Linked DNA regions of Homo sapiens. The protein of the gene in region 3 purifies or fractionates together with the protein of the main gene of each other region. This does not show direct contact. Each region holds a gene or a part of one and is shown on either strand. Other genes may lie near its edges.

Region 1 (3,500 bases), on a different chromosome or scaffold from region 3:
TGCTTTTTAAAATAGTTAAGCACTGAAAAGGGTAAGAAATATGACATTATACTTTCTTTTATAATTACCTGCACACTTACCTTTATTAGTGCTATTTGTTTTTTGTGTGTAGATTCAGATTATTGTCTGGGTTATATCCCTTCAACCTGAAGGAACGTTCTTTGTTATTTCCTCTAATGCAGGCTAATAGCAGTGAATTCTCTGTTTTTTGTAAGTAGGGATATATTTACTATCTTTTTTAATTTTTAGTTTTTATGAATACCTAATAGTTGTACGTTATTTATGGGGTAGAGGTAATATTTTGATACAACCAAACAATGTGTAATGATCAAATCAGGGTAACTGAGATATCCATCACCTTAAACATTTATCATTTCTTTTTGTTAGGAACATTCCAGTTCCACTCTTCTAGTTATTTTGAAATATACAATAAATTATTGTTAACTATAGTCATCCTGTGCTACTGAACATGAAAGACGGTTTTGCTGGGTGTAAGTTTCTTCATGACAATAGTTTTCTTTCATCTCTTTGAATATGTTATCTCACTGTCCTGTGGCCTCCATTCTTTCAGATTAGAAGGTAGCTGTTGATCCTGGCGTTTCCTTGTATATATGATTTTTCTCTTACTGCTTTTAAAATTTCCTTCTTGACTTTGGCTTTCAAAGTTTTTAATAAGATGTGTCTGGATATAAACTTCTTTGTGTCATCTGTATTTCACTGAGTTTCTGTATCTTAGATTAATGATTTTTATTAATTTGGGGGTGTTTTCAACCATTATTTTTCAAATATTTTTTTCTGATCCTTTCTCTCTCTCCTGGTATTTTCAATTACGTATATATTGGTGTGCTTAGTTATGTCTGATATTTCTCTGATGATCTATTTTTTTCATTATTATTTCTCTGTATTCTTCAGGATACATAATCTCTATTGATCTTGCTTCAAGTTTGCTGACTCTTTTTTCTTTTCTCTGTTAAACTTCCCTGGCTTAACTCATTACTCTCTTGGAGTTATCAAAATTCTCTTAATTGCTTACTGCCAATATCTTCATACCACTATGCTTAAACTTATCCATCCTCTGTTCCAAATAGAAATCAGTTCACTTGGGGAGGGCTACCAAGCTGTGTATTTTCATGGCCTCCCTCTACCTCTTGGTTGAATGTGCCTCACTGCTCTGAAGCTGTGGGGAGTGAGAGTGGCCTGCTCCTTTGTAGTAAAACCTCTGCTTACAAGTAGGGCACAGGGTGGGAAAGGTAACTTCTTGCCTTGCCTCTCCTGGTGGAGAAACTGTTCCTTACAAGTAAGCTGGAGTGAGGGCAATTGGGACACAGGATTTTCCAGCTGCCACACCTGAAGACCTTATGTCCTGGAATGAGGAGTTGGTGTAGGAAGGAAACCCCAGACTTCTCAGCTGTTTCTGCGTGGACAGAGCTTCTGTCCTACAAAACTGGGGATGACAAGAAATGCTGGCACCCAATCTTGGGGTAATGCAGTATCTCTGGAGTAGGACCTGGGTAGAGAGGAAACCTCTGGCTTCTTGGCTATATCCATATAGAGTGGAGCTTCCGTCATACTGAGCTAGGGATGGGGAGGTGCTGGGAGAGGGTCTTGGCTTAAATGCCTCAAACTCTCACTATTATTACTGATTAATAAATGTTTCTTCATTTGATGTATTTCCTTAGGACATCTTCTAAAGACTTTCAATAGTTGTTTTTTAAAATAATAATTTTTACTAGTTATGCTTGTTTCGTATGAGAGAGGGTTTACAGAGCTCCTTATGTGGCCAGCCTGGAAATGCCAGAGTACCAGGTTTTTTATTTGAATGTTACCTCCTCTTTAAAAATCGATTTGCTTTGTAGGAAGCATGAAACAGAGCTCCTGAAGTAACTAGAGAAAAGGTGATTTGAAGACCAACCCTCCTTCAAGGTCAGAATTTAGAAATGTTCTTTTATGCCAAAGATGTTTCTCAAATTTACTGTCTGGATAGAAAGGCTAATCCAAAGTGGTATCTACAGTATTCTGAGAGAGAAAAGTTGAAGGGCTTTCAGATTCTCTTAAAACACTTTATGAAAGGTTGATATTTTAATTTTATATCAAGTTAATTCCAAAAATGTGTTTAGTACACACATACACATACACACACCCCCCAAATATATCTGTAAATAAAAAGACAATGTTGGGTGATGATCATTGTCTTGGAATACTACTCCACTCTTTCCATTTCCATAAAATATAAAGAATTTACTGAAAATCCAGATCATTCTTATTAGATTAGGTAATCTAACTATAACATATGCCCCAGCCACTGGAGGACCATTTTCCATTTACTTACTATATAATGTCTATCCTTAAGAAAATTTTGGGTTATAAAATAACATTCAAATTGCACTTAGCAAATGTGGATTGGGAATGATTTAGAAATCAGCACTTGTGCTCATGAAGGAGTGGTTACTCCTGATGTTGGCTTGAGATATAAAAAGGGCTCTGTATTTGCACCAGAGCTATGAGATTTGTTAGCACAGAGATCTTCAGGAATGATAAAAGACACATGCAAGACCTTTTGAAAATTTAAATGACTTCTAGATAATGAATCCTCAAAATTTTTTTGAAAGTCACACAATTTTATAGTGATTAAAGCCTGTTTTGCTGCTAAAAATAGTAAGTGTAACAGCCCAGAGACACTTAAAAACACAACTACATTTTAGCTCTGATGATTCAATATTGTAAGAGGTTTCATAAAAGTATTATAAATATATTAAATAAGTCAGTACAGAGTACTTAATACTAAAATCAGTCCCTTTTTCCTTTTCTTTTTTTTTTTTTTCCCCAAGACGGAGTCTCACTCTGCCGCCCAGGAGTGAGTGCAGTGGTGCGATCTCTACTCACTGCAACCTCTGCCTCCCGGGTTCAAGCAATTCTCCTGCCTCAGCCTCCCGAGTAGCTGGGATGCCCGGCTAATTTTTGTATTTTTAGTAAAGATGAGGTTTCACCATGTTGGCCAGGCTGGTCTTGAATTCCTGACCTCGTGATCCGCCTGCCTTGGCCTCCCAAAGTGCTGGGATTACAGGCATGAGCCACCACGCCCAGCCCTTTTCTTTTGAAAACATGATTGTACCTGAGCAGAAGCTGTGTGATACCCCACTGCACTCCTCTAAGAAGAGTCAAACATCATAGAGCACAGTGTTTGAGTGATCCTGTTAATGACTGTCAATATTTAAATATTATTTTCCCCTTCTAGTTAGTATGCTTGTTTTATAAGAAAAGACATTTCTATAAAGGCCTTTTGAATCACTTCAAGTCATTGTCACAAGGGACAATGGGTAAGACGATTGCTCAAGCCTAGGAGTTCAAGTCCAGCCTGGGCAACAGAGAGGCTTGAATAGCAATACGTTGTCTCTAAAAATTAAAAACAAAAATAACAATGATGGTTTACTGATGTTAAAATTAGAACAGTACAAGGACAGAGTTTTGAAAACCAAATTATTTCAAGAGGATTAGCATTG
Region 2 (3,500 bases), on a different chromosome or scaffold from region 3:
AAATAAGTTTTGTCTGTAATACATTAGAAGAATAAACTAGGTTTGTTGGTGTGGTAATCTATGAAGCTGTCGTTACATCCCTGGGTTAATTCACAGTGAGTCTTTTTTCTCACAGAGGATGTGAACTTGGGGTTGATTCGTTATGTGTTGCACAAGGAGAAGATCCGTGAGATGATGGATAGTTTTCAGTTTCTGGTGAAAGACAGTAAACCCAATGTGGTCAGCGACAATGTCTTCCATATCCAGTGGTCACTCATCAGCTTTAAATATACCAGGTACAAGTTTTACTGTGCTTTCCTTCTTGAGAAATCAATCAGGCAAGCAGAGGGAGTCAGGATGAAGGATGCTGGGGGGCAGCTCTAGTCACCTCTTGATGGCGGTGATGGTGATGATGGCAGTGATAAAAGTAATAATTTCACCAAATATTTATTGAGTACTGTATGTATTAGGTGCTGCACTAGGACTCGACATGCATCATCTTATATAATACTTGGAATTCTGAGATGAATTCCATTCCTGTCTCCACAGTGGCAAAGTAATAGAGACAGAAACTTGTTTATGTAACTTGTCCACAGTCACATAGCTAATAAGAAGTAAGACCAGGATGTAAGCCCAGTGATCTTAACGATGTGCTCTACTGCTGCTCAGACAAATGTTTTTGCTTCTGTCTCTTCAAGTTTTAGAAGAGAGTCTAGTAGAACTGATAGGAAAAATAAAAATAGGCATTCAAGTTTGGAAAATAATCACTGGCCCACACTATCAATATCTTCACCTTCCATCTGTATTCTCCTTGTTCCCAACCCTGTTTTCTCCCCTGGCTTCTTTGGGTTTGGTAGGAATGTATATCTGTAGGGCTAAATGCATGGCTTAATGTGGACAGCCCTTTAAGATGCTTTTCTAATCTGTTGGAGAGTTAGAAAGGCAAACAGAGAGATACTGATTGTTAAAGGTAGTGTGCAAGCATGGTGCTGATTTTATAGGTTAGATTATAACTAGGATTATAATTTATGTGGGGGAAATATTCTTTAAGTCTACATTTCAGAGACTCACTATCCAAGAAATCAACTTCATGAAAATTCAGATAAAAATTGGAACTTGGGGGAAAAAAGGAAGACTTAAAACCTTGATTTCATGTGCCCCAAATTCAGGCTATTCTACTCTTACACACATTTGGAGAATTAGAGGAAAATTAGAATCAACTTTTACATATGTAATGTTTTGCTGTTATTTACCTCTCAATTGTATCACCTTCAAAATTCAATAAATTCAATAAAATTCATCCCTTTTTCTGGACAACCCTCTAACATTTAATGGACTAAGTGGTATAGACGGTCCCAAAGCTGGCAATGAGGACTGAGCTCTCAGAGTCACTTTCCCTGCTGTCCTCACAGCAACAAGACATGCACCCAGGTCTAGGGGCCATCCTCAGTGGTGAAAAACAAAGCCCAGCTCATGCCCTACTTTCTGTGGCCTTTCCAAACCTAGATACTTATTATGAATCAATAGCATATGAATAGTTGGCCTTCTACTTTACAAATGCAATAGAGATTCTGAGCAGCAAGCTAAATTAATCATGTCCTTCCCCCATTGTCATAAAGTTCTATTTGTCTAAACATCTCTGTTATGTAGGCTTACCTCACATTTTCTTACCTCTGCTTCTGCTCTGACTCCATCACACAGTTCCTGGAGATCTGGTCCAGTCAGTTCCCACCTAAGTCATTGATTGCCTTCAGAGCAGCTTTCTTCCCTAAGAACCCACTGACCTATTGTGATTACTCAACCCCAGGAGGGAGAGATTGTTTTTCCTTTCTCTGTGCCCTGAAATCTGAAGTTCATTGCTCCTATGTGCTGTCCATCTCCCAAAATGACTCTTAGCTTGCTTGCAAAGCAGGGAAGACGACATTCTGCATCCACAGCTTCCCTGTTTGTTTCGTGCTCTGATTGTTCAGGTGAACTCATTCCCTCAATTTACAGCCTGGATTCTTAGAGGAACCAAACTTCCTCTTCTCTGACTACCTAATGCCAAGAACCAAATGGAAGAGACAGGCATTAAACAAGTTGTTTTTTCATAACCATGGGGCATAGTTTAAGAGATGCCTTTTTGTGTGCTTCCAGCTACAATGTCAGTGAGAAGGCAGGGTCTGTCAGTGTCACGGTGCAGAGGACTGGGAACCTGAACCAATATGCCATCGTCCTGTGTCGCACCGAGCAAGGCACCGCCAGCTCCAGCTCCAGGGTCAGCTCCCAACCTGGGCAACAGGACTATGTAGAGTATGCTGGCCAGGTAGGTGGGGTAGTGGGGTTGGGGGAGGCTCCAGCAAGGGCTGTGACATGGCTGCAAGCAATTGTGGCACTTTCCTACTTCTTCCCAACTTTGCTTTTCACTGGTGTCCTTCTTCAAGTATTAAATAGTTTTCCTATGTTCCCCTCCCATAGTACTTTGTTCTTCACAGTCTCTCTAACCTCCATTGAAGTTTTAACTGCCAAAGGGGAAGTTGTTGTCTAGCTTCTCAGTCTTTACATTTTGCTTCATGACAAAAAGAAGTCTCCAAGCATCATGTTCTATATTCAGCTTTGGTATCCCAACCGTTCTTCTCCTCTCACCTTCTTTACCTAAAGGGAGAGAAGAGAGTGTGTAAGGAGACTGGTTGGGAATCCCTTGGGGTAGGCTGGCTGAGATGATGGGAGCTTGGGCTTCGATTATGAAGTGAAGTTTGAGAGAAGCGGATGGATTTGACAGATGAGTGAGAATTGATAGGATTTGGCAGTGGATTGATTAGACAGTGGGGCCATTTGAAAGATGGATGATGATGCCTCTTGCTAGGAAGGGACATATAAGAGGAGCCGGTTGGGCAAGGTTTGGTGCTCGTGACTTTGCTTTGGCTATGTTAGGTATAAATTGTCTTAGAAAGAGCAGGTTGACCACTGTATAGATGGGCAGGCAGTGCAGAGAGGAGTCTGGTGTCCAGAGAGAAATTTGCAAGTCATCTACATACCAGTGGTAATTAAAGGTGGCAATGAGAAAGAAAAAGGAGAGAGTGAAAGTGGAAGAGAAAGGAGGACTTAAATAGTCAACTTAAATAGTCAACAAATACAGGGCCCCATGTATTTGTCATCTTTTATGGAGGGCACAATGTCTGACACTTAATTTTTTTTTCAAAGCAACTTTATTGTTATTATGGCAACACAGATCTCTGTAAAGAGAAGTGGGCTCTGTTCTTTAATTGAGGCATTTCAGCTGGACTAAGCTAATGTCTCTAATGTCAAATGTAAGTGAGGAATTAGGAAAGAACAGATAAGCTAATGTCTTTCAGCTAAATGATAAGACGGAGGATATTCTTGTGTTTTTCAGGGAAAGACAGAAGACTGTCAGTGTATTCTAGATCTTACATAAAGATCTGTTGAGTGTTTCATTTCACTGGGAGTGTTTTAAAATATGAAGCTTAATAAAAGTGTTATTAGTTGATTAGATATATACTAATAATTTTCTGTTTGAGTAA
Region 3 (3,500 bases):
CACGTGAGGGAGCCCTGCAGACATGCAGACTCACTTTGCCGCCGCTCCTGGAGCCCTCACACCAGCAACCCGGGCCTTGCTTAGAAGAGTGGCGGGGGGTCAGGAGGTGGCGGTGAGCCTGCGTAGCTTGAACGGGGTAGTGACATAGTGCTCACAGCTTTCCTTTTTTTTCCTTCTTTCCTTTTTCTTTTTCTTTTTTTAAATCTAGACTAAAATGTAATGATTTTTATACTGAATGCAGAAAACAACAAAGAAACATGATGAGCATAGGGCCAGCTAGTCCCTCTGGGCACTGAGGGTCCACAGTTACTGTTTTTTGTTTGTTTGTTTGTTTGTTTATGAGACAACATCTCGCTCTGTTACCCAGGCTGGAGTGCAGTGGTGCGATCATGGCTCACTGCAGCCTCAAACTCCTGGGCTCCAGGGATCCTCCTGCCTCAGCCTCTTGAATAGCTAGGGCTACAGGCACGTGCCACCACATGTGGCTAACATTTTTATTTTTTGTATAGGCAGGGTTTCACTATGTTGCCCAGGCTGGTCTCAAACTCCTGGGCTCAAGCAAAACCTCCCAAAGTGCTGGGATTGCAGGTGTGAGCCACCACACCTGACCTATTTTCTGTACTTTTAACAGTGCTATCCCACTTTCAATCCCATCCTACAGGACACTTCAGAGGTGCACTGGGCTGCTCTGTTAGAAAGGGTTATGTTGTCCCTTGCTCCATGAGCTTATGGCCAGAAGGCCAAAGCCCACAGGTCAAAGGAGCAAGGGAAAAAGCATGAGGAGATAGTAAGGCCCAGAGGCAGGAGGACACGAGAGAGTGACAAAAAGAAAACCTCCTCTCTCCGGAGCATGGGCAGCCGGGATGGCAGCATCATCTTCCAGAGGAGTCCCTGAAAGGAGGCTGGTTCTTCCATATTATCCTCCATACGGGACTCTGCTGCCCATCGTGGGTCCTGAGGACCCCGAGTGCAGGAGGGAGTATGGGTGGCCTCATCCCCAGAGTGGCATGGCTCTCACATGTTGGCACTTCTTTCCTTTACACAGGGGGCCTCCCCGGAGTTCCAGCAGTGACCCTGACTTTGTGGTGGTAGACGGCGTGCCCGTCATGCTCCCGTCCTATGACGAAGCTGTGAGTGGCGGCTTGAGTGCCTTAGGCCCCGGGTACATGGCCTCTGTGGGCCAGGGCTGCCCCTTACCCGTGGACGACCAGAGCCCCCCAGCATACCCCGGCTCAGGGGACACGGACACAGGCCCAGGGGAGTCAGAAACCTGTGACAGCGTCTCAGGCTCTTCTGAGCTGCTCCAAAGTCTGTATTCACCTCCCAGGTGCCAAGAGAGCACCCACCCTGCTTCGGACAACCCTGACATAATTGCCAGCACGGCAGAGGAGGTGGCATCCACCAGCCCAGGCATCGACATTGCAGATGGTAAGTGCTTGCCCCAGGGCCCAAGCCACACCTGCAAACACCTCCGCACCAGCATCTTCAAGCCAGCTCCTTGCTACGCACGCTCCACCCCCCAGCACAGAGTCGAATCAATCTGTTTACCTCTCACTCAGCTTAAATTGCTTCATGCTCTCTCTCCATGTAGAGGCCTTGGGCAAGGCCAATTATTGTAGGGAATGATCATCATCTTGCAAGTAATGAGCCCATTAATGGAAATTTCAAGAGGCACCAAAAGGCATCGAGCCATCCAGAGTAGAAAGGCAGCAGTGGCCGGTGCTTCATTTTTGTGGTGTCTGTATGATCTGGAATGTATTTCTTCTTTATTCCTTAATTAGATAGGACTCCTGGAAGTGGGGCTTAGGGACAGGATGGCACATACATGCCAGGAAGAAGGATCCAGAGGCACGCACTAGGGCCCAGCAGTGTGTTCTAGCCCCAGAGTTCTGTGTACATAGAAGTTATTTTTACCAGATGTGAAGTAAAAGATGCATGTGTACCTGTCACAAGGAAGGGTAGATTCATGGTAAAATAAGGAAAATGTGTCAGATTGATTAGGTCTCTGTTTCCTACAGAAGGGGAGCCCCAGTGCCACTTTGCAAATGAGAGCACTAATTTGGCTTATATTGAGAGTAAATGGCAGTAATGACGTGGAAACAGAGGTCTCCTGGGCCACCACAGTGTTCCTTTTCTGCAAACCACGCTGCCTTTCTGTACTTGAATTTGCAACTTTCTGGCTTGTGTGACCATTAAGGCCTATGGTTAAAATGTAACATTTTATTTTTTATGAACTGGAAATAAGATCATAATTGTTTCCTGGCAAAGAACAATTGTTACAGAAAGATGTTGTATAGGAGGTTGATTTATTTGGTTATTAACTGGTATGTGGAACTTAACATTTTCTTCTCCTCACTGATTTGAGAAACTGTAGATATTTTAATGAGGCATATAATTCCAGATCGTCATGGTGTTTTCTGGTTATGTTAAGCTAATAACCGTCTCTTCTTTTACAGAGATTCCTCTAATGGAAGAAGATCCCTAATATGGGTCAAGATCCAGATGACTCTCCTGCTCCTTCGGGGAAAGGACCTTGTATCTTGGAGTGAGGTCACAGAAGGATAGAGCCTGGGGGCAAAATGTCTAACTTGTCTACATGGGGACCACAGTTCACATTATGCATCTCAGGCTCCACAGTGAGGCTGACAAACTGCAATGGCAGTGCTTTTAAATGAGATTTGAGGATTCACCAAGACCCATGGGGAACCGGGGCAGCAGGGAAGCCCTCGCGTGGTCTTGGATGAGGGGTGTTAAATGTGTATCGTGCTGTGGAACATGGGACAATTCCACGCACATCCCACCGAATCATCACGCATCCCATTGACTGGCAAGTACTCCCCGCCCCCTCTGAAAGCATGTCACATCATGTAAATTTGCTTCTAACATCTGCTTCAAACTGTCTCTGGACTCCAAATTTGGATGGGTCAGCCTCTGCAGAAAGTTTGTGTTGAGATGCTGGAAGAACAGCAGAGCCTCCTGCACCCTCAGCAAGGGACCAGCTCCCAAAGGAAAGGTCCTTGTGTGACATTTGGAGAATCTTCCTTCATCCAGACAACTCTACTCGAAGCAAGACGAAAGCAGGATGTGGCAGTTGCAGTGAGAAAGGAAAGGAAAGATGGGCAGACTCTGCTTTCTGGAAATTTCTTCACAAAGTAGAGCTCATGAACTCTGTGCTGTCTTCTGGTAACATATCATCAGTGTTTGTATTCATGGTGTGGCACATGGATCCATGGCATTGGGTAAATCTGGTGGTTTTTACACATGGTCAGAATGTGTTCAAATACATCTCATGATGGAGACAGTAACCAAGGTAATGTTTTGTTTCAGCATTTTAAAAAGACTCCACTTAACATTTATCTCAGAATCATGAGCCTCTCTCTAGTTGACAATTGTCATTGTTCCCCCAGCCCCAAATTGAACCATACATTTATTTTCCAAAACAGAAATTGTTTCTGTAAACATATCCGACCTTCAAAAGAAGTGTGAGGTTGGATTTTTCC
Region 4 (3,500 bases), on a different chromosome or scaffold from region 3:
AAAATGAATGAACCTTGAGAACATTATGCCAAGTGAAAGAAGCCAGACACGAAAGGCCACATATTGTCTGATCCTATTTATATAAAATGTCCAGAATAGGTAAATCCAGAGCACAAAGTGGGTTAAGGGTTGCCTAGGGCTGGAGGGTGTGGGAGTAAATGGGGATTAACTGCCAATGGTGCAGGGTTTCTTTCTGGGGTGATAAAAATGTTCTAAAATATGTTACAGTGATGGTTATACAACTTTGTGAATATATCATACTAAAAACCATAGAATTTTACACTAAAAATGGGTGAATTTGATCATATGTGAACTATATGATATACTCTTTAAAAAATATATTTAAATTCCTCTTATGTCTCCCTATTGATTAGAAGGAAAAGTTGCCACCTCTCTGACCCTTCTTCTGCAGCCACATCTCCCTCTGACCATAATCAAGAAGTACTCCTTGCATTTATGAACTCATGTCATTAGATCGGGCCCATCCAGATAAATCTGAGATAATCCTCACATCTTACAGGTCTTACCTATAATCATACCTGCAGAGTCCCTTATGGCATGGAAGGTGATGTATTCATAGGTTCTGGGAGATTAGGATGTTGACATTTTGAGGAACCATTATCCTGCCTATCATACCCTGTTTTATACTTCTTTCTATTGCATAAGAGTCTCACACATGTTGACAGATGGATGGAAAAAATATATTATGCAGGTACTAACAGCAGCAACAATGACAGCTAAAAACTGAGCTATCTATACATCAGATAAAGTAGATTTAAAGGAGGAAAGCACTATTAGAATTAAAGAGGGAGTTTTCAAAATAATTATCCAGTCATAGAAGAGATTTTTAACATACCTCTCTCAGTAACTGATAGAACAAGCAAACAAACAAAAATGTCCATAAAGATATAAAAGATTTGAACACCATAGTTAACAAACTTGACCTAAATGATATACAGAGCATTGAGCCCAACAACTTCAGACTACATGTTTTTTACATTGGTGCTTGGATAATTCATAGTCCGTATTAGAAATGAAAATGTTGAATATCTGTTATTCAAAAGGTTATAAAAAAAATAACAAATTAAGCCCAAAGAAAATAAAAGGAGGGAAATAATAAAGATAAAAGAAGTTAATGAAATAGAAAACAAACATACTACAGATAGGATCTACAAGGCCAAAAGTTTGTTGTTTGAAAAGACCAATAAAATCAGGCCAGGTGCGGTGACTCACGCCTGTAATCCCAGCACTTTGGGAGGCCAAGGCGGGCGGATCATGAGGTCAGGAGTTCCAGACCAGCCTGGCCAACATGGTGAAACTCTGTCTCTACTAAAAATACAAAAAATTAGCTGGGCATGGTGGCATGCACCTGTAATCCCAGCTACTCAGGAGGCTGAGGCAGGAGAATTGCTTGAACTCCAGAGGCAGAGGTTGCAGTGAGCCAAGATCGCACCACTGCACTCCAGCCTGGGTGACAGAGCAAGACTCCATCTAAAAAAAAAAAAAAAAAAAGACTAATAAAATCAATTAAACACTAGCAAAACGTATCTTGGGAAAAAATGAAAAGCATGAATTGCCAATATCAGGAATAAACAGGCAATATTACTACAGATGCTACAAACATTTAAAAGATAATACAAAACAAAAGTTCACATGTACTACACAAATTCCTAATAAAATACAAGTTATCAAAACTGACAAAGGGAGAAATAGAAGATCTAAATGGTCCTATACCTGCTCAGGAAATTAAATCAATAATTTCAAACCTTCCCACAAAGAAAACTCTAGGCCTAGATGGCTTTACCAACAAACTCTTTTTTGTGGATGAATAGTATTCCATTGTGTCTATATATCACATTTTCTTTATCCATTCATCTATTGATGGACACTTAGGTTGATTCCATATCTTGACTATTATAAATAGTGTTGCAATAAACATGGAGGTGCAGGTAACCCTTTAGTATACCGATTTCCTTTCGTTTGGATAAATACCTAGTGGTGGGATTACTGCACTGTATGGTAGTTCTATTTTTAATTTTTTGAGGAACCTCCATACTGTCTTCCATAATACCTTTACTAATTTACACTCCCACCAACAGTACACACATACATTTTTAAAGCATAAAACAGTGCTATATATTATCCCTTGGCACATATGTATTCTGCATTTTAAAATGGCTGAAGGATGCACTGAAGTCACAATAGCAGCAGCCTCTAGAGGAGTAAATGAAAGGACAGGGTTTGAGGATAAGAACAAAGGAGACTTCAACTTCATTTTTATTGTCCAGTTTCTTTTATTTTTTTTAAAAAAAGGCAAACATGGTAAAATGTTAACATCTGTTCATTTTGGGTGATGGCTCATAGGGTGTTAGTCATATTATTCTTTGTAATTTTCCCTTTGTTTAATTTCTCAAAATGAAAACAATAAAGTCAAGATAATAGTATCTTTCATAGTTTAGTCTTAGGCTTATTTATTGTTTAGGTATTTTATGTTCCTGTTTGTCTTAAGAAAAAAATGTGTATAAATATAAGTATAGATGAGATAGTTAAATTTCCTTTTTTTGTTTGTGTTCACAAAACATGCTTGTTTTATTTAACATTCTTTGGTATCAAAATGTGGCCTTCATACAAACTTGTGAGGAGTAAACCATGAGGGTTCACAGTTTTACCACAGTCTGTATGTTAGCAACCATTTCCTGTGATAGACATGCTCATGCACCTCAAGTACTAGAAGTATCCATTTGTATTGGAGCCAAAATATCCGCAAGCAGAGAAACAAGAAGTCAAAAATATTTTCCTCTTTGGTGCTAAAGATTTGCTGCTGTGTGATTGTTGAGACTGAAGTTCTGAAAGCACCAGTGTTTGCCGGATCTGTCTCCAGCTTGTCTCTACAAGGTCATTTCCAAAAGACTGTCAAAAGAATGGCATGTCCCGCCTTTTCCACCACCGACACACCCTGCATGAAAACCCCAGGAGCACAGAAGTCCTGCTTGGGTGAGGATAAGGGCTCTCTCAAAGTCTATTATCGAAGGAAGGCAGACAGATGGGTTAACCACTCCAATGGAGTCTATACTTTTACAGACATATCACATATTATGACAATTAATTATTAGGCTGGTGGTTCAGCAACCTTTCGAAGTGATCCCAAGATGATTGCTGTGACCATATTTGAAAAGCTAACAGATAAATGTGGGCTTAAAACAGACTATATGTTATTCAGCTAGGCCTCAACCATAGGCATAAGTAGGAGTGAGGTGAGGGCCCTTGTGGACCCACCAGGGTCTTCCACAAGAGTAGAACTCTTGCCTTGTTCACTCCTTTCATAATCAGGCAAAGGAAGGAGTTATTCAAAAGGAGGAACTGAGCATGTTCAACCGAGACCCTTTTTGCTGTCCAATTTCCAGCCAGCCTGTCACCTGGATATATGTAAGCACTCTGGTCTGCTCTTGGCTGTGTGCTCTAAGGGAGCCCACTGGGTGTTCAGCAAGATCAATGGTGAG

The links.
Region 1: the proteins of SUSD4 (region 3) and CNTNAP3 purify together in Homo sapiens (affinity purification with mass spectrometry; 3 studies listed by BioGRID and IntAct, with this or other methods). This does not show direct contact.
Region 2: the proteins of SUSD4 (region 3) and FRAS1 purify together in Homo sapiens (affinity purification with mass spectrometry; 3 studies listed by BioGRID and IntAct, with this or other methods). This does not show direct contact.
Region 4: the proteins of SUSD4 (region 3) and ARSB purify together in Homo sapiens (affinity purification with mass spectrometry; 3 studies listed by BioGRID and IntAct, with this or other methods). This does not show direct contact.

Annotation. Positions count from the first base shown.
Region 1 is NC_000009.12:39,096,168-39,099,667, forward strand, and holds part of CNTNAP3 (contactin-associated protein-like 3 isoform 1 precursor), read right to left. Parts: intron 1-3,500.
Region 2 is NC_000004.12:78,473,323-78,476,822, forward strand, and holds part of FRAS1 (extracellular matrix organizing protein FRAS1 isoform 1 precursor), read left to right. Parts: intron 1-115; coding exon 116-275; intron 276-2,115; coding exon 2,116-2,284; intron 2,285-3,500. UniProt on the Homo sapiens protein: Involved in extracellular matrix organization. Required for the regulation of epidermal-basement membrane adhesion responsible for proper organogenesis during embryonic development. Involved in brain organization and function.
Region 3 is NC_000001.11:223,221,177-223,224,676, reverse strand, and holds part of SUSD4 (sushi domain-containing protein 4 isoform a precursor), read left to right. Parts: intron 1-1,045; coding exon 1,046-1,428; intron 1,429-2,456; coding exon 2,457-2,485; 3' UTR 2,486-3,500. UniProt on the Homo sapiens protein: Acts as a complement inhibitor by disrupting the formation of the classical C3 convertase.
Region 4 is NC_000005.10:78,782,811-78,786,310, reverse strand, and holds part of ARSB (arylsulfatase B isoform 1 precursor), read left to right. Parts: intron 1-2,813; exon of another isoform or gene 2,814-2,994; intron 2,995-3,500. UniProt on the Homo sapiens protein: Removes sulfate groups from chondroitin-4-sulfate (C4S) and regulates its degradation. Involved in the regulation of cell adhesion, cell migration and invasion in colonic epithelium.